Regions from separate parts of the Homo sapiens genome. Here region 1 is linked to region 2. Evidence: fine-mapped expression QTL. A gene starts in region 2. The other region holds a variant in brackets. All regions are shown on one strand. Distances are from middle to middle.

Evidence for each region. PIP is the estimated chance that this variant, and not a neighbour inherited with it, causes the effect.
Region 1: its variant is fine-mapped to the expression of GAB4 in testis (GTEx, PIP 0.99).

The regions. Positions count from the first base shown.
Region 1 is chr22:16,955,114-16,963,439 of GRCh38, forward strand. It overlaps GAB4 (GRB2 associated binding protein family member 4), which reads right to left. Exons shown (of 10, transcript NM_001037814.1): 10 at 6,823-7,763. The coding sequence ends at 7,620. Among named protein-coding and RNA genes, the nearest start is that of GAB4, 49 kb to the right of the region's middle. The variant A/G (reference allele first, on the strand shown) is at 3,811.
Region 2 is chr22:17,004,945-17,013,270 of GRCh38, forward strand. GAB4 (GRB2 associated binding protein family member 4) reads right to left here and starts at 3,278. Exons shown (of 10, transcript NM_001037814.1): 1 at 2,997-3,278. The coding sequence starts at 3,170. It also overlaps the pseudogene IL9RP6.

The sequences.
Region 1 (8,326 bases), 50 kb before region 2:
GGCAGGGGGATAACTTTGGGTGACTCTAGGGCCAGGGTGCTGAGCAGGGACTGCAGGAGTGAACTGGGGCCGTGTGTTGGAGCCAGATGCACTGCCCTGCATAGGTCTGAATGCCCTGTCCCGGGGAAGCAGGGAGAAAGCGGTGTGGGTAGAATAACTCATGGTGGTTCTAGGGCCAGGACCCCGAACAGGGGCTGCAGCAGTGGACTGGGACAGAGGTGGAGCTTGCTGCTTTGCAGGGGTCTGTATGTTCTTTCCTGGGGAACCACGGAGAAAGGGGTGTGGGGGCTGCTGTGGGTGGGATGATGTTGACATGAACTCTGTGGCAGACCAGAGCCCCAGCCTTAGAACCCTGGCATCACAAGATGTTAGGACACACTAATTTTTGGCTCCTGGGGCTATGGGATGTCAGAGCTAGAAGGGACTTCGGGGGTTACCTTGCTATACCGCTTATTTTCCAAACCAAGGTCATTGCTGTGTTTCTGATCCCAAACACTCTGGGCCAAGTGTTCACCTTCTCTTCCTCCAGGTCCCATGCCTCCAGCCTCACCTTGAACTAGAAATGCCTGTTCTGCCTTCGGCCTGGAGGCCATGGGTGAGGAGAAGCTCCTTTGGGGCCTTTGCTTACCCTGGGCACTCCTGCTTTTTTGTGAAGCTTCAAACACTCTTGGCTTCATTTGAGAACAACTCACAGCCTTTTATTTCCAGGCTGCAGTGGCTCTTTGCCTTCCTGGATCACAGCCAAGTGTGTGCAGGGGGAGGAGTGGGTGGAAAGGAAGCTCTGGTCAGGCCTCCACAGTGACACCCTCCCTGCCCCAGGACCTACCTGCATCTGACTACAAGAGCCTACTTCATGGAAGAAGCTATTGAGCCCTTGTCCATGCTAGCACAGGTTCATGACAGAGACTGTGGGGCCATGGCAGGGCCCCCTCGAGCCCCATTCTGTACTGCTGCCCACATCTCTCTCTCCAGTGATTCCACCTACTGCATTAAGTCTGGGGCCTTCATGTGCTGTAAGTATCATTCATCTACTGTGACCTCTGAGCACCCACATTGCCAGGCATCCCTGGGCTGTTGAGGGTACAGAGGTGAATGAAGAAGGTGAACAAGAAGGGGGAGAATGGCCTGGGACCAGGGACCCACAGGACACCACTACCCTCTCTGTGAAGGCGCTGTGTGGTCTCCAGCTTTGACTTGAACCTGGTCAACTACTTCCTGTTCCCTCAGGCTGACAGCAGAGAACCGCTGCTCCAGCGAGGTGGGTGCTGTCCTGAAGGGTGTTGAACAGGCAGGGGCCTGAGCCAGGCGCCACACTACCTCATCCAGAGATTGCTGTGCTTCCCCTTCAATGCAGGAACTGCAAGATCCTGGGTGACATCACTGCCCCACTTGCTGGTGCCAGGCCAGGACTGTGGACTAGCACTGAACCAGCACTCTCTGGAGTGTCCCAGGAGAGCCGTCCCAACCACTGCTAAGCCCGCAAGGGTGCTGCCGCCTAGGCCCTATGGGAACTGCCCACACAGGTGGCCTTCTCCTGCTGTCTATCTGCAATGTCCCCTCCCTTTTACCCAAGGAAGGTCTGTGTGCTCTTTTACCAGCAGTGGCCTAGGGAGGGGCCCAAGGCTGAGCCGGGCTCTCCCAGAGTCTGGACCATGTCCACCCTCCATAGGGCTGAACGGAAGCCATTTCCAAGGACAGCAGCATCCTCACCTGTGGAAGAGCAGACACACCAGGATCCTGGATTTGATCTCCTGGGTGGAGATGCATCCAGTCCCAGCCAAGCACTGGTTCGATACAATATTTCCCTTCACTTTGAGCCTTTTAAAAAAATCCATCCATCCATTCATTCATTCATTGCTCAGTGCTCGGAATATATCGGTGGCCCAGGCACCTAACCCCTTACTTCAGAGGAACAGACTTTGAATAATGAATTATGCAGTTGTTTAGTAAGTGTGCTGTTCTACGAGTGTGAATGGCCAAGTGTCAGTGGGAGGTTAGTTCTACCTCCTAACTGTGCCTGTGACTCCACCCTTTAGAGTTAAGGGTGGTATCAAAATATTTAACAACTGGAACAGCAAAGGCTTTGGCCAGCAGGATGAGTTTCAGCCATGGACAGCCAGAGCAGTAGCTGAGGGCTGAGCGAGGGCAGTCCAGTGATCTTCTTGTGCCTTGACCATGCTATAGCCTCTTTTCTATGAAGAGAAAGACCCTTGTTCTCAAGCAGTATGAAACCAGCCTCTCTGAAGCCTTTGAAAGCTGTTGCTCTTCCTGTATGCTGTACCCTCGATTTCCTCACTGCATCTGGGCAGCATGATAGGGACCCATGCTGCTCCTTGGTAAGGAGAGGACATACCCCTGTCCCCATCACTTGAGGTACAGCATGGAGTGACAGCCCTGTGTGCTGAAGGACTTGCCTAGTTCTGAGGCTGGGAGGACCTAGAGGATGGAATGGAAGAGAGAGGAAGGGTGCACAGGATGGGGGGTCCCAGTGGAATACTGTGGAGGGGACTCACCTCTCAGGTGCACTTGAAACCCAAATAAATAACTGGAAATGTTTCAGACCCAAGAATTCTGGACTGCCCACAAACACCTGTTGCAGATGCCACATCCCTCTTTCCTTGCATCTGAGAAGCTGGGGAGGTTGAGAGGGGGTTGTCACATCTCCAGAGCTGGACTTGGCATGGGTCAGGGCTAGCTGGGAGGCAGCCCCCTGTTTCTCCAGAACTCGAACCCATCTCCTTCCCATGGACACCATCCCATCCAGGAGCTGGAGAGGAGCACATGAGCAGCCACACTGGCAGGGCCCAGGACCAGCTGTCACCACAGGGCCATGGTGCACCTACCATGCCTACACCTAGCTCCTTACCACAGGCAACAACCCAGCCTGGAGCTAGAGAAACGCAGGAGCAGCCACACTCGCAGAGCCCAGGATCAGCCCTCACCACAGGTTTCCCACTCCAGAGCCCGCACCCGGCTCCTTTCCTGGGCCCCACCCCATCCTGGAGTTGAAGCAGAGAAGTGGGGCATGTACGGGGCTTGGGAGCAGCCCTTACCACAGGGTCCGCAAGCACCATTCCTACAGTGCCATTTGGGAGAACATGGAAGGTAAAAAGGCACCAGGGACCTCAAGGGCTGCCCCACTTGTGCAGTGGGTGGAGCAGTGGAGGGGAGTTGTGAGATGTCAGACCTCAGGAACCTGTTGCCAGGGGCCCAGTGGACACAGACACAGATGAAGCCCTCTCAGAACCACCTCTAGACTCCCTTCTAAGAAAGACGGATTGGCAGGTGCTAGCACAATGTCCAGTTTACAGATTAGGAAAGTAGATTCTGTGATAAAGAGAATTTATTTTCTCTCTGAGCCAGGAAAAGTACCTATTTCCTATTTAAGATGAAGTGAACAGACTGGCACAGTGGCCTTCCTGGGTCATTGGAGAAATGATTCTGAAATGGTTTTCTTGTTGACAGTGTGTGTCTGTGCCTGCCCAGGGCAGCCAGGTGCTCAGGCTCAGCCTAAGGTGAGACTTGAGTGAGTGTGGGCTCCACTCCCAGAAAGACCCAAGCAGCCCACCCTGGGCTGTATTCCTCATGAACTTCACTACCGTCCTGCTCCAGTGCTTCAGTACAAAGGAGCCTGCCAGCACGAGGCCTGTCCAGTGACCACAGCAGAAATGATAGCCTCTTGAGCACACTCCTGTCACCCCCAGGTGTGCTCACAGGGTAAATACACATAACAAAAGTTTTAAAAGAAAATGGAATAACTTCAGTGATTAGGCACCAACAGTGATTTGAAAAATGAAATGTCGGCCGGGC[A/G]CGGTGGCTCACGCCTGTAATCCCAGCACTTTGGGAGGCTGAGGCGGGTGGATCATGAGGTCAGGAGATCGAGACCATCCTGGCTAACAAGGTGAAACCCCGTCTCTACTAAAAATACAAAAAATTAGCCGGGCGCGGTGGCGGGCGCCTGTAGTCCCAGCTACTCGGGAGGCTGAGGCAGGAGAATGGCGTGAACCCGGGAAGCGGAGCTTGCAGTGAGCCGAGATTGCGCCACTGCAGTCCGCAGTCCGCAGTCCGGCCTGGGCGACAGAGCGAGACTCCGTCTCAAAAAAAAAAAAAAAAAAAAAAAAAAAATGAAATGTCAATTTTAAATGGTACCAAGACAAGAACTTAAGACTGGGCTTCTTGCCCATTTTCTCTTAATGAGAAACCAAACATTCTGTACAAAATGATTCTAAACAGCAAGATACAAGTAGCCAACAAATACACAAGGACACACACCGCTGGACCAAACATACCAGCCTGACTCTGCAGTGGGCTCTCAGCAGGCAGACGGCCATCGTCCCAGGCCTCAGGGGCCTGGTGTATCCCAGAATGATGCTCTTAGTGCTCTGCAGGTCAGCCTCCCCTCCCCCACACTTCCCAGATCAAGGCCCAGGCCCAGAACAGAAGTGCTCACTTCCCTGTCCTGCATGTCCCTGGGGGTCACAGTCATGTGGGTGATGCTGTGCCAGGGCCTGGGACTAAGATGACAGCCTCACAGCACGTTGAAGGACCACAAGGCCGACTACAGCTGAGCCTATGTTCCCATAACCAGAATGGTTGTGCTTCTGCCGTAGGAATGTGGTCTATTTTAATAGTTTGAAATGAAGAAGTTGTCCATATCAAGCCAGAAAGGGACTAATTGGCCAAAGCTCTCGTGCTGCTCATCCCTTGCGATGCAGAGCCTCCAGAGAGAAGTAACAGAGCAAGGAGCTCCGAGACCAGCAGAGCCTCAGCCTAGGAAGGGGCCAGACAACATCGAATCCAACCACCCACTCCACAGATGGGAAAGCAAAGTCCTAGGGAGATGTCCTTGCCCGTTTCTCATTGTTCCCACCTGACTGCTCTCTAACTTTGCAGGTGGTGGGGGTGGGTGAAGACGGCTCCCCTGGAGAGCCCAGCAGGACAAGCCCCCATGTGAGCTGCACTGGCTGAGGTGTCCCTTTTTGGGGTCTCAGTCCTGGCCAGGCCACCAGGGGAGGTGGACTTTAACCTCAAGATAGGTCCAAGGACCCCTGTATTAAGCTGAGTTGACTTTTCCTTCTGGGATGGTGGGTGGAGGGGGGGATACATGCTAGACATGGCTGGAGTCCAGGCTTGGGAGTAGAGCTCTGCTTCCAATAGGCCAGTGTCCTCTTCTCTTGTCCTTCTTTCCATCTCCACCCCTACTTTCACCCTCAGGGTTTGGTGGTCACAGGAACCAAGAGCTGGAAGGAACCCCTCTGGAGATGGGACTTGAACACCTCAGTCTCTGAAGCCTCCACCAAGTTCATGCACACCATGCACACTCAGAACATGCAGCACTTTCTTAGCAGCCTGGGATCAACAGGGAAGGTGGCTGGGCTGGGAGCTGAGATCAATACTGGGCCCCACTGTAGTCAGCTGGGGACAGGGGATGGCAGTTAAGAGCTGTGCTGTATGGGACCCCTTGTAGAGGACCTTACAGGGACACAGTCAGGGCTGGGCCAGTGAGCCAGCACCCTGCACACTCTGCCCAGTGTGGTCACACAGCCATCACCATTCCACCCGTGGGAGCACAAAGGCCCGGCCCCTGCAGTTCTGAGCAGCTGGACCTGCCCTCCAAAGCTCCTGTGGCCCCTCAGCACAGGCTTTTCCAGTCTGTCGTTCCTTCCTCCACTGCAGCCTGGCCCTGCCCTCCTTCCCTGCAAAAATCTGACCTAACCTCTCAAGACTAATTCAGGCACCCCTTGTCCTAAAAACCACCTTCTCTGCCTCCACTCCCTGAGGAGTTTTCACTTCCTGTGCACCCCATCAGCATCTTCAGCCTATCTTGGCCATCACCACTGTCTGTGTCCTTGTCCTTTCCCTCACTGATGTGACCTTGTCACGTTTGGGAAAAGGTCTAATAGATTCCCCGTGTCCTCAGTGCCTAAGCCCGGGGCCTTGCCACCTGAGCCTTTGAGCTGCCAGGGGAGAGGGCTCCTGCTGAGGGATGGATCCCCAGAAGCCAGCCAGGCCCCTGGTCTGGTGAAGTGTGGTGCTCACAGGTGCTGACAGGGTGTGGAGGCCGCCTCCATCAAACCCTGTGGGCAGTCATTTTTTGGAGGAGGAAAGTCTGTTCACCCCAAGGTAGGATGAAGTGTCCGCTCTGCCCTGTTCATTCTGAAACTCTTCGAAATTTTGGTCAAAAACTTTCAACAAAAAATTCAGATCCCTACCTGAACTTTGGCACAAGAAGCCCTGGGTGAGGGCCTACCTTCTGAACCTGCGATTTGAGAATCTCTCAAGTCACAGGAGGAGGAGACTGGCTTCTCCTGTCCCCATAGCCAAGTTTGAGTCCAATGTGGCACTGGAACGCCAAGGAAGAGGGCGAAGTGAGAGGGAAACACGGCCTGGCACAGCCTCAGCCCCACCCCAGGCCGTCCTCCCTGCAGGCTCTACCCGCGTCCCAGATGCCCCTCCAGCTGGCCTCCCACACTGCTCCCATGCATAGCAGACCCCCCTTCACCTTCTGCTCCTGTATTCCTTTCACCACTGATGGCATGCCCCCAGGGCCCCTGGCCACATTTCCCCACTTCTCCCTGGCTGTCTCCCCGGCCTTGCCTCCCATGGGTTCCCTCTGTGCCCTCCCCACTGCTCTGCCCCTTCACAGAAGGTCACGTGCTGCACCACCTGCACTGCGGAGTCCCGGGCCCTGCCTCGGGCCCCTGCCTGTCCCAGGAGCCCCTCAGCCCTGAGCCATCTCCATCTGCACATGCTCCCTTCCTCCCTCACTCCCTGCCCCATCCCACCCCTCACCCTGCAGGTATTTCCCCCATCAGTTGCTGCTTTGCCCAGCTCAGATCAAGCCTTCTTAGGCAGGCAAGGGCCCCCCAAGGGGCATCAGCAAAGAGCAGCAGAGCCAGCCTGCAGCTCCGGATTTCTGGGGCCCTGACCCTGGTCCTTGTCACCCCAGTCTCTGGAGCTCCAGCCCTGCTTCTTGTGGCTTTCGGCTGTTCGTCTTCATGTTTTCCCTTCCTTTTGCCCTTCCCTCTCTGCCTCTCCCACCCGGGAGCAGCTGCCATACTCTGGCCTCAGTCTGAAAGTGGGAGCCCTTGCAGGTATCAGCTGCCCTGCTGGTCTAAGGATCTAATTCCTTTGCTTCTCAAGACCACCTTTAACCTTCCTTCTCAACTATTCCAACGTTTGATGGCCTTGCCTCTCCCCTGACCAAAAAATGCCAGGGCTGAAAAGGTCCATGTCCACTGTGGCCTGTGGGCCTTGGGTCCCCGGGTCAGCAAGGTAGCTCCTCATGTTCCAGGATTGAGGGAAACAGCCCAGAGGCTAGAAGGAAGAGGCTGAGGACCATGAGTAAGTGTGAGAGTGGAAATCTGTTGGGAGCCCGGGTCTGAGGGGCAGGAAGAGACTGAGGATGCTTGCTGGCAACTGCTCCTAGCAAGGGGGTGAAGGTGGGGACCATGGCCAGCCAAAGGCACAGGTGGGCCCCAAGCAGGCAAAGGATGTATATTGATCAGGCCTCTGCTCTCTATGTAAGGGATGCGGTCCCTGATATTACAGAGCTTTAGAGTGTGGCGGAGCAGCTCTGAGGCACTGTCCTGGCCCCACTCTGGTTTTGGTGGCCCGAGTCACAGCTTGGCGCCCCTGGGAGGCTCTGAGGACTGCCGCAGGCACATCTGTTCATGCATGGTCTTCTGCAGGGCCTGGGTCTTCTCCAGATCCACCTGGACATAGTCCACCTTCTTGCCGGACGTGACAGAGCCTATGGATGGCTGAGGGACAGAGGGTGGAAGTGGGAGTGGCAGTGTCTGTGAGTTCCTGGTGAGGAAGGGCAGGCCAAGGAGTGGGCTCTCTCAAACTTTCTCAGGGGGAAGGAACCTCTGCCTCCTGCTCTCAGCAGCCTGGGGGGCCTGGGCTTTAAAGCCTCAACTCCAGGCTAACCTCTCCTCCTGCTGGATGCCATAGCCCTGGCCAGCACTTCTCATCTCCCACCTCGCAGGAAGAGCCAGGCCCTTCTCTGGCCCAAGGACTGGCCAAGGCCTTCCCCTCTAAACACTCATCCATGGCAGGAAATTTCCCAGGTGTCAACAAGCACCAGCCTAGGCCTTTCCAGGGGTGCCCTTGGTGAGCCCTATCTCCCCAAGGGGCGCAATGCACAGAGATGGAGCTCTCCACCCTGCTGTCTAGACAGGCTGGCTACATGTGCTTTCTCGGGAGGCTTTCCTGGACCCAGGAGTTCCTTCTGAGGTCCCCCGCATCAATGGCCGGGCTCTAGAACCCTCCCACACAGTGAGTTCTCCTCACAGAAGAGTTTGGCCTGGAGCCAGGTTGCCGG
Region 2 (8,326 bases):
CAAGGATGCCCTCTCTCACCACTCCTATTCAACATAGTATTGGAAGTTCTGGCCAGGACAATCAGGCAAGAGAAAGAAATAAACGGTATTCAAACAGGAAGAGAGGAAGTTAAATTGTCTCTGTTTGCAGATGACATGATTGTATATTTAGAAAACCCCATCATCTCAGCCCAAAAACTCCTGAAGCTGGTAAGCAACTTCAGTAAAGTCTCAGGATACAAAATCCATGTGCAAAAATCACAAGCATTCCTATACACCAATAATAGACAAATAGAGAGCCAAATCATGAGTGAACTCCCATTCACAATTGCTACCAAAAGAATAAAATACCTAGGAATACAACCTACAAGAGATGTGAAGGACTTCTTCAAGAAGAACTACAAACCACTGCTCAAGGAAATAAGAGAGGACACAAACAAATGGAAGAACATTCCATGCTCATGGATAGGAAGAATCAATATTGTGAAAACGGCCATACTGCCCAAAGTAATTTACAGATTCATTGCTATTCCAATCAAGCTACCATTGACTTTCTTCACAGAATTAGAAAAATCCACTTTAAATTTCACATGTAACCAAAAAAGAGCCCGTATAGCCAAGACAATCCTAAGCAAAAATAACAAAGCTGGAAGCATCACACTACCTGACTTCAAACTGTACTACAAGGTTACAGTAACCAAAACATGTTACTGGTACCAAGACAGATATATAGACCAATGGAGCAGAACAGAGGCCTCAGAAATAACACCACACATCTACAACCATCTGATCTTTGACAAACCTGACAAAAACTAGCAATGGGGAAAGGATTCCCTATTTAATAAATGGTGTTGGGAAAACTGGCTAGCCATGGGCAGAAAACTGAAAGTGGACCCCTTCCTTATATCTTATACAAAAATTAACTCAGTTCTGAAGGAGGTCGGGGTCAAGATGGATTAAAGACTTAAACGTAAGACCTAAAACCATAGAAACCTTAGAAGAAAACCTAGGCAATATCATCCAGGACATAGGCATGGGCAAAGACTTCATAACTAAAACATGAAAAGCAATGGTAACAAAAGCCAAAATTGACAAATGGGATCTATTTAAACTAAAGAGCTTCTGCATAGCAAAAGAAACTATCATCAGCGTGAACAGGCAACCTACCGAATGGCAGAAATTTTTTCCAATCTATCCATCTGACAAAGGGCTAATATCCAGAATGTATAAGGAATTTAAACAAATTTACAAGAAAAAAACAACAACACTATCAAGAAGTGGGCAAAGGATATGAACAGACACTTAACAGAAGAAGATATTTATGTGGCCAACAAACATGAAAAAATGCTCATCATCACTGGTCATTAGAGAAATGCAACGAGATACCATCTCACGCCAGTTAGAATGGCCATCATTAAAAAGTCAGGAAACAACAGATGCTGGAGAAGATGTGGAGAAATAGGAATGTTTTTACACTGTTGGTTGGAGTGTAAATTAGTTCAACTATTGTCAAAGACAGTGTGGCGACTCCTCAAGGATCAAGAACTAGAAATACCATTTGACCCAGCCATCCCATTACTGGGTATATACCCAAAGGATTACAAATCATTCTACTATAAAGACAAGTGCACCCGTATGTTTATTGCAGCACTATTCACGACAGCAAAGACTTGGAACCAACCCAAATGCCCATCAATAATAGACTGGATAAAGAAAATATGGCACATATACACTATGGAATATTATGCAGCCATAAAAAAGAATGAGTTCATGTTCTTTACAGGGACATGGATGAAGCTGGAAATCATCATTCTCAGCAAACTTACACTGGAACAGAAAACCAAACACCGCCATGTTCTCACTCATAAGTGGCAGCTGAACAATGAGAACATATGGGCACAGGGACGGGAGCATTACACAATGTGGCCTATTGGGGTTGGGGGGCAAGGGAAGGGATAGCATTACGAGAAATACCTAATGTAGATGATGGGTTGATGGGTGCAGCAAACCACCATGACACGTGTATATGTATGTAACAAACCTCCACGTTCTGCACATGTATCCCAGAACTTAAAGTATAATAAAAAATTGAAAAAAGAAATGGAGAAAGACAAGAACGCAGAATTGATCATACCCCATACCTCAGGGAAGCAGAGGAAAGGGAAGATGACTATAGGATCAGCTTATTCTGGAATAGATTCTTGAAGGGCTGGACCTGGGGCTAAGGAACAGGAGAGAAAAGCCTCTTCTATGTACCTTGGTATAATCATAGTGACTCCTAACAATTACCGCTTCCTCAGTAAAATTGTTGAAATTTAGAACAACACTCTTCAAATTAGCCACTAGGGGAAAGGGCAACCAATCTTCTTTTTTTCTAAATCGTTTAACCACATGAATTAATATATAGAAAACTACACTGCAGTGCACACTGTCCCTCAGCAGGCGTGGTGGCATGGAAGGACGCGAACGACCCCGGGAGTGGCGGGTGAGGAGGGAAGGGGAGCGAGCGGGTGCGAGGTGCCCGCGTTTTCCTGGGGCCCGGGAGGGAAAGGGAGAGGGTGTGAGGTGCCTGCCTTCTCGGGGCTTGGGAGGGAAGGTGAGCAGGTTTAAGGCGCCTGCCTTCCTTGGGGCCTGGGAGGGAAGGAGAGAGGGTGCGAGGTGCCCGCCATTCTCAGGGCCTGGGAGGGAAGGGGAGCGGGTGCGAGGTTCCTGCCGTTTTGCGAGGCTGCGGAGCCTGCTGTGTCCCCTTTCCCGCCCACTCTCCGACCTGCAGGCCCACGGCGCTCAAGGTAATAGGGTCCCCAGCCCTGGAATCAACTCCCTGGGTCTCGGAACGCAACCCACACAAACCTGGACCCTGTCTCTCACTGGCGGGGAGTCGCCTTCGCATGCAGACGTGGAGAAGTCGCCTCCACCCGCAGCTCCTCCCGTGGACCCAGGCCGCCTCCCCCACGCCCCTCCCGGAGTCCCCAGACCCTCCGTGGCGCTCCTGGTACCGCCCCCACTGCCCCACTCACAAAGAGCCTCAGCTTCTTCTCGGGGGGCGACTTCCTCAGCCAGCCGCTGTACAGCACGTGGCCACTTCTCGTGCTTCCGCCGGCGGGGCCACTTCCGGGCCACGAAGACAAAGGCGCAAATGCCGGGTCAGGTGGGCACAGCTCCCGGGAGGGTGAGGGGGACGGCAGGGACATGGGGGCTGCAGCTCACAGTGAAGGTGGGGGAGACAGGGCGAGAGGGCGTTGCTGGAGGTGGGGTGTGAGGGACGGCTTGCGATACCCTGGGACTGCGGGGTAGAAAGCGCAGTTCTAGGGGAGGTCGGGGTCAGAGGTGAAGCTCGTGGGGAGGGCGAGACCCGGGCGCAGGTGCTCACAGGCGAGGGCGGGGTTCAGGTTCCAGCTGGGCTTTGAGTTCCGGTTCAGGCTTCCATCTGTGGTTCCGGTTCCAATTTGAGGTGGAGTTTGGGATTAAAGTTTAGACGAGGCCTCTCGTTCAGGGTTTGCGTTGGGGATTGGGGTGGGGATTTGCACCCTGGGTCAGCCTGGGTGCATCTCATCGGGACCACCGGGGCGGGGGACATGGGCCGGGTGGCTCCTTGGGAGAAGAGGGACAGGGAGCGCAGCTGGTGGAGAGGACAAGAACGAGGGGCGCAGCTCATTCAGAGGGCCACAACAGAGTCTCAGGTGCTGAGTCCCATGCGCCAGATGAGGAAAGACAATGGAAGAGTTCAGGTTCCTGCTGGGGTTTGAGTTCCAGTTCGGGATTCGGCCCATGGTTTACCTTCTGACTTGAGTTGGGGTTTGGGGTCAAGGTTCAGGCTAGGACTTGAGTTCCGGGTTGCAGTTTGGGGGTGGGGTTAGGTTTCAGAGTGAGGGTTTGGGCCTGTTTGTGTTGTGTATGTTTGTGAATGTATTGGGATGTCACCGTGTGTACTTATGTCACGTGTGTGCACGCATCAGTGTGTGCATGTGTGAGTGTTCATTGAGTGTGGCACTGACAGCCAACCCCTCTCCTCCCATTTATGCCCCACTGTCTTATCCTGGTTGGGGTGGGCTTTACAAGTTCCTTCCCTGGGCCAGTTGGAGGTTCTCATGTTGCCTGGGGAGAGAAGGGAAGGAGAGAACAGGTCAAAGATGAGGGCAGCTTGGCCTCAACCAGACCCGGTGTCACGGGGACCAAGAAGCCGGAGGTCCTTGTCTCCTGCCTCTGGAGGAGCTTGGTTTGCTTCTTTGTTCACACATTGTGTGAAAGCACAGTTGGGGGCATCTGATATGCACAGGATCTGTTCTTGCCTCTGCAGATGTCTTAGAGAACAGGACAGACAAGGGGCCTCTTCAGTAAGCCATCCCCAATGTGCACTGCATGTCAGCTTACAAGAGGGGCACAGGGGCCCCATCAGGTAGCAGGGAGGATGCAAGGAAGAGTGTGTGGGGATGGGGGTGCTGGGTGGGGCCAGGTGAGTGGGTGCCTGGCTTCTCCTCAGAGCAAAGGAAAGTGCTGAAGAGTGTGAAACTGTGTGACATGTTATGCTTTATGTTTTGAGAATGGATTGCAGGAACAAGCAGACATGGGGGACCTGATGAGGGCCAATGGGATGTCCATAGAGATAAGATTTGGCTTGAGCTGGTGGGAAAAGTGGAGATGGAGCCACATGGAGGAAATTGCAGAGTCTTGAGACTGAGGAGACATGTGGGTGGATGAGATATGAGTAGTGACCCGACCCTGAGGTGGGGAATGGGGGGACAGCCCCGAGGGGAGGTTGGTGAGGTGTATTTGGACCTATTGGGTTGGAGCCCTAGGCAGCATCCTCATGGGAGGACCACTGGGTCCTGGTCAGGCAGACATGGTGCTCAGGGAGACACTGGATGAGGTGGGAGCCATAGACCCTCTGCTGATGGCAAGAATGGGGTTCCTGGAGGTGCTGGCTCCCTCTGCAGGCTGCAGTCATGGCGAGTCAATTCTAAACTCACCATCACAGCTCACACTGTAAAGGACACATACCTTAGTATAAATCAGTTAGCCAACGAGGCCACAGGGTACCCAGTTGGATCCTGCCCTGAGATGAGAGTAGGTTTGGATGGGGTGAGACGGGAGAGAGGCAGTGGCAGGAATGAGGCAGATAAGGTCTTCCTGGATGGAAGGGAGCTCAGCCCCTGCAGTGACCTCGTACCGACTGGGGCCTCAGCAGGAGCCCCGACCTGGGTCCCCGTGGGCCTCTGACTGTCTTCTCCTGGCCTCAGGGTGGAAAGAACCCTCTTCCAGAATATGTCCTCTCCAGCAACATTCTTCCAGCCCCCTACAGTGCGCACAATGGGAACTTCAGGAGAGTGCAGAGACTGCCACAGGGCATGGAAGGCAGGTGTTGCCCCAAGGTCTAGCCTGCCCAGGATGTTGGCTTTGATGACGGTTGGGGGCCACTGTGGGCGACTTATGAGTGTTCTGAGCCTTTTTGTGTGTGTATACAGTGAATTTAAATTTATCCTCTGTGTCTCAAGTGGACAAAAAAAAACCACTTTATTTTCCATTGATGATTTATTTTTCTTGTGTCTTCCATTCCATGGTTGATGGAAAATATATATAAGTTTCTCATAACTTATCTCTGTTTCCTCTGCTTTGCAGCTATCCGTGCCCACCATGGGTCTCACCTCCTCCTTCTGTGAGTGTCTGTCCGGTGGCTGTCGGGGAGGGTCTCCAGCACTTGTGCTGCCCCTGGGACCCTCACTGACCCTGGGCTCCTGGTCTGCCCACCCCTTCGATTCCCCTGGAGTCACACATTGGCACCAGAGTCAGGAATGGGCTCTGCATTTCCCCCTCTGTGGGCCTCGTCTGGCTCCCACAGCCCATGTATCAGCGAACTACTTGGGGGTCACATAGGACCCTCCCCTCCCTGCTGAGCTGGCAGTTCATGCCCCGTGGGTAGGAGGAAGGGCAGAGGGAGAGCTCCAGGGGTGGGCTCCAGTGTGCTCCCTCAGGCTTCTCACTTTGGGCAAAGGACACAGGGCATGAGGGCCTCTCCCTGCGGTCTGGACCAAGCTGACCTGGGTCTTTACCAGTCAGGAAAATAAAATAACTTTTATCTGAGAAATGCAAGTGCTTTAATTATCAGGCCCAGAAAGAGGCATTAAAATGAGACCACAGTCATGTCCTACTCCCTCACATTGAGCTGTGTATTCATTTCTTGATACTGCTGTTGCCAGAAGTAGCTATGAATTTACCTCATAATGCCACACCAGACGCCATACCCCACACCCTATAGCTTAACAGTGTACGGCCCATCACTAAGCAGTGTTATTGCTATGAACCAACTAAAATTCCTGAGGAATTGTATCTGCCCCTTCCCTGCCCACCTTGTTTTGCCTTTAAAAATCAGCTCATAACTGCTGCTAATTGCAGTGTATATTCAGGATAACTTGAATCTATGCTCCAGAGTTGCAATCCTGAAGTTTGTCTCAAATAAACTCTCTACTAAGATTAACTTTGTCTCAGCTTCTTCCTTGTAGGGTGACACCAGGATCTCCTTTCCTGGTGCTGCAGGGCTTCCCTGGACCCTGTGCAGCAGAGATATCCCCTCCACACAGTATTGCCAGCATATTATGTAGAAAAATCATTTTCCCTTTCAACAGGAAGCCCAGTTCTTAGGATTGTTGTTCAAAAATATAATTTAAAGCTTAAAACTGAGCACTTGGGTCTTGGCAGATTTCCCATCTTTCCTCACAGTGGCAAATGTGACTGTCAAGAGCCTGGGCAGCTGAGGACAAGTCTGAGCGGGGCAGAGGTTGTGATCGTACCCTGGCCTGTGTCATCCCCTTGCAGACACCAGCCCTTCTCTATAGAACCAGGGCATCTGCCAGGGATTATTTAGGCCTTGGGTGAGGGTCTGGCAGGGAGCAGTGCAGTGATGGAGGGTGTGGTGTGTGTGTGGCGTGTTGGATGGATACTTCTGGTCCCACCTAGGGAAGAGCTTCCTTTTGGAAGCAGAGGTCTCCTGTGTCCCCACAGAAGGATTCAGGTCTGCTGGCCTTTCCCAAGCACCTTGAAAGTCACCAGTCTTCGTGTCACCTGTCCGTCATGCTATGTGTGTGTGAGAGAGAGAGACAGAGAAAATTGTTCAGGTGGGGGTACCCAGTCTCTGTAGCTGCTGAAAGGCCCTGGGACACATGCTGCATGCTGCCAAGTGTTTGTTTTTTCCTCAGCACATGTCACCATCTGTACCCTGGTGCAGGCTGCTGTGAGCACCAGGCTCTGTGCTAGGGGAGCAGTGAGGGGACTTGAAGAGACTCAGGGTCCCATGTTGAGGCTGAGCTGGCACATAGTAAGGAAGACAGAATGCTCCTGGCACAGGTGCTGCTTGGCCTCTGGGTGTGGACATCAGGAGGGCTTCTTGGAGGAGGAGGGAGGGCTTGCTGAGGAGGAGGCTGCCACTCCCAGGGTGAGTTCTGATCATGCTGCCTGATCCCTTTCCTCATCCCATACTCTGCTTCTAACCTGGATGGGGGCCCACAGGGCCAGCGTGCAGCTGAGCCAGGACTGTGCCAGCACCTCGCAAGGAGCCTTGGAATTCAGTGTGCGAGAGGCCACTGCAGTACTCACCTGTGACTCAGCATGTCCCTGGAAATCTGTCAGCCTGGAGGAGAGCAGGAGGGCATGGGGACACCTCCTAGGGGCCCCAAGTTTGGAGGATATGCTGCCAGCAGAGTGTGAGGAGTGAGAGGCACCGCTGCCTGCCTACCTGCCACTGGAGGACCAGGCCCCTACATCCCCGACAAGCCTGCTCACCGAGACTGAGTGGGGTAGCAGTGGCTACTATGCCTTGGGCTGCTCTGGAGGGATGCAACCCTTCAGCCCTCTCAGGAAGCACATGGAGCCCTGAACCCATCCCAGCCCTGCCCCATGGCCTGTCACATGACCACTGGGGCTTGGAGACCTAGCGAGGAGGTACCTGGGCGGTGAATGGTCCAAGCTAGAGGCATGGGCTGCACAGGGACATCCAGGGCCCACAATCCCCTCCTGTCTTCACCATGGCTCAGTCCTGAAATTTCTAGGGCCCAGACACAGCCACCTGCATCGTGTCCATCTTAGGGAAGATGGACAAAAGTCTCTGGAGCTGGCCCTTGGCTGGGACAGGACCTCCTGAGAAGGGGCCTCTAGCAGTGGTCAGAAGTCCTGCCTGGATGGAGGCTGGAAGCTCCTCCTTGCCCGACCTGCTCAGCACCTGTGGGGAGGGGCCTCTGCCCTCAGCATCCTGCCCACAGCACCACATTCTCCTGTCCCCTTTCTGGCTTTATCTATAGCCACTCTGAGAAAAGAGGTGTAGTCTCCCAGCCTGTTCTGCTCTTACCCCTTAAAGGGC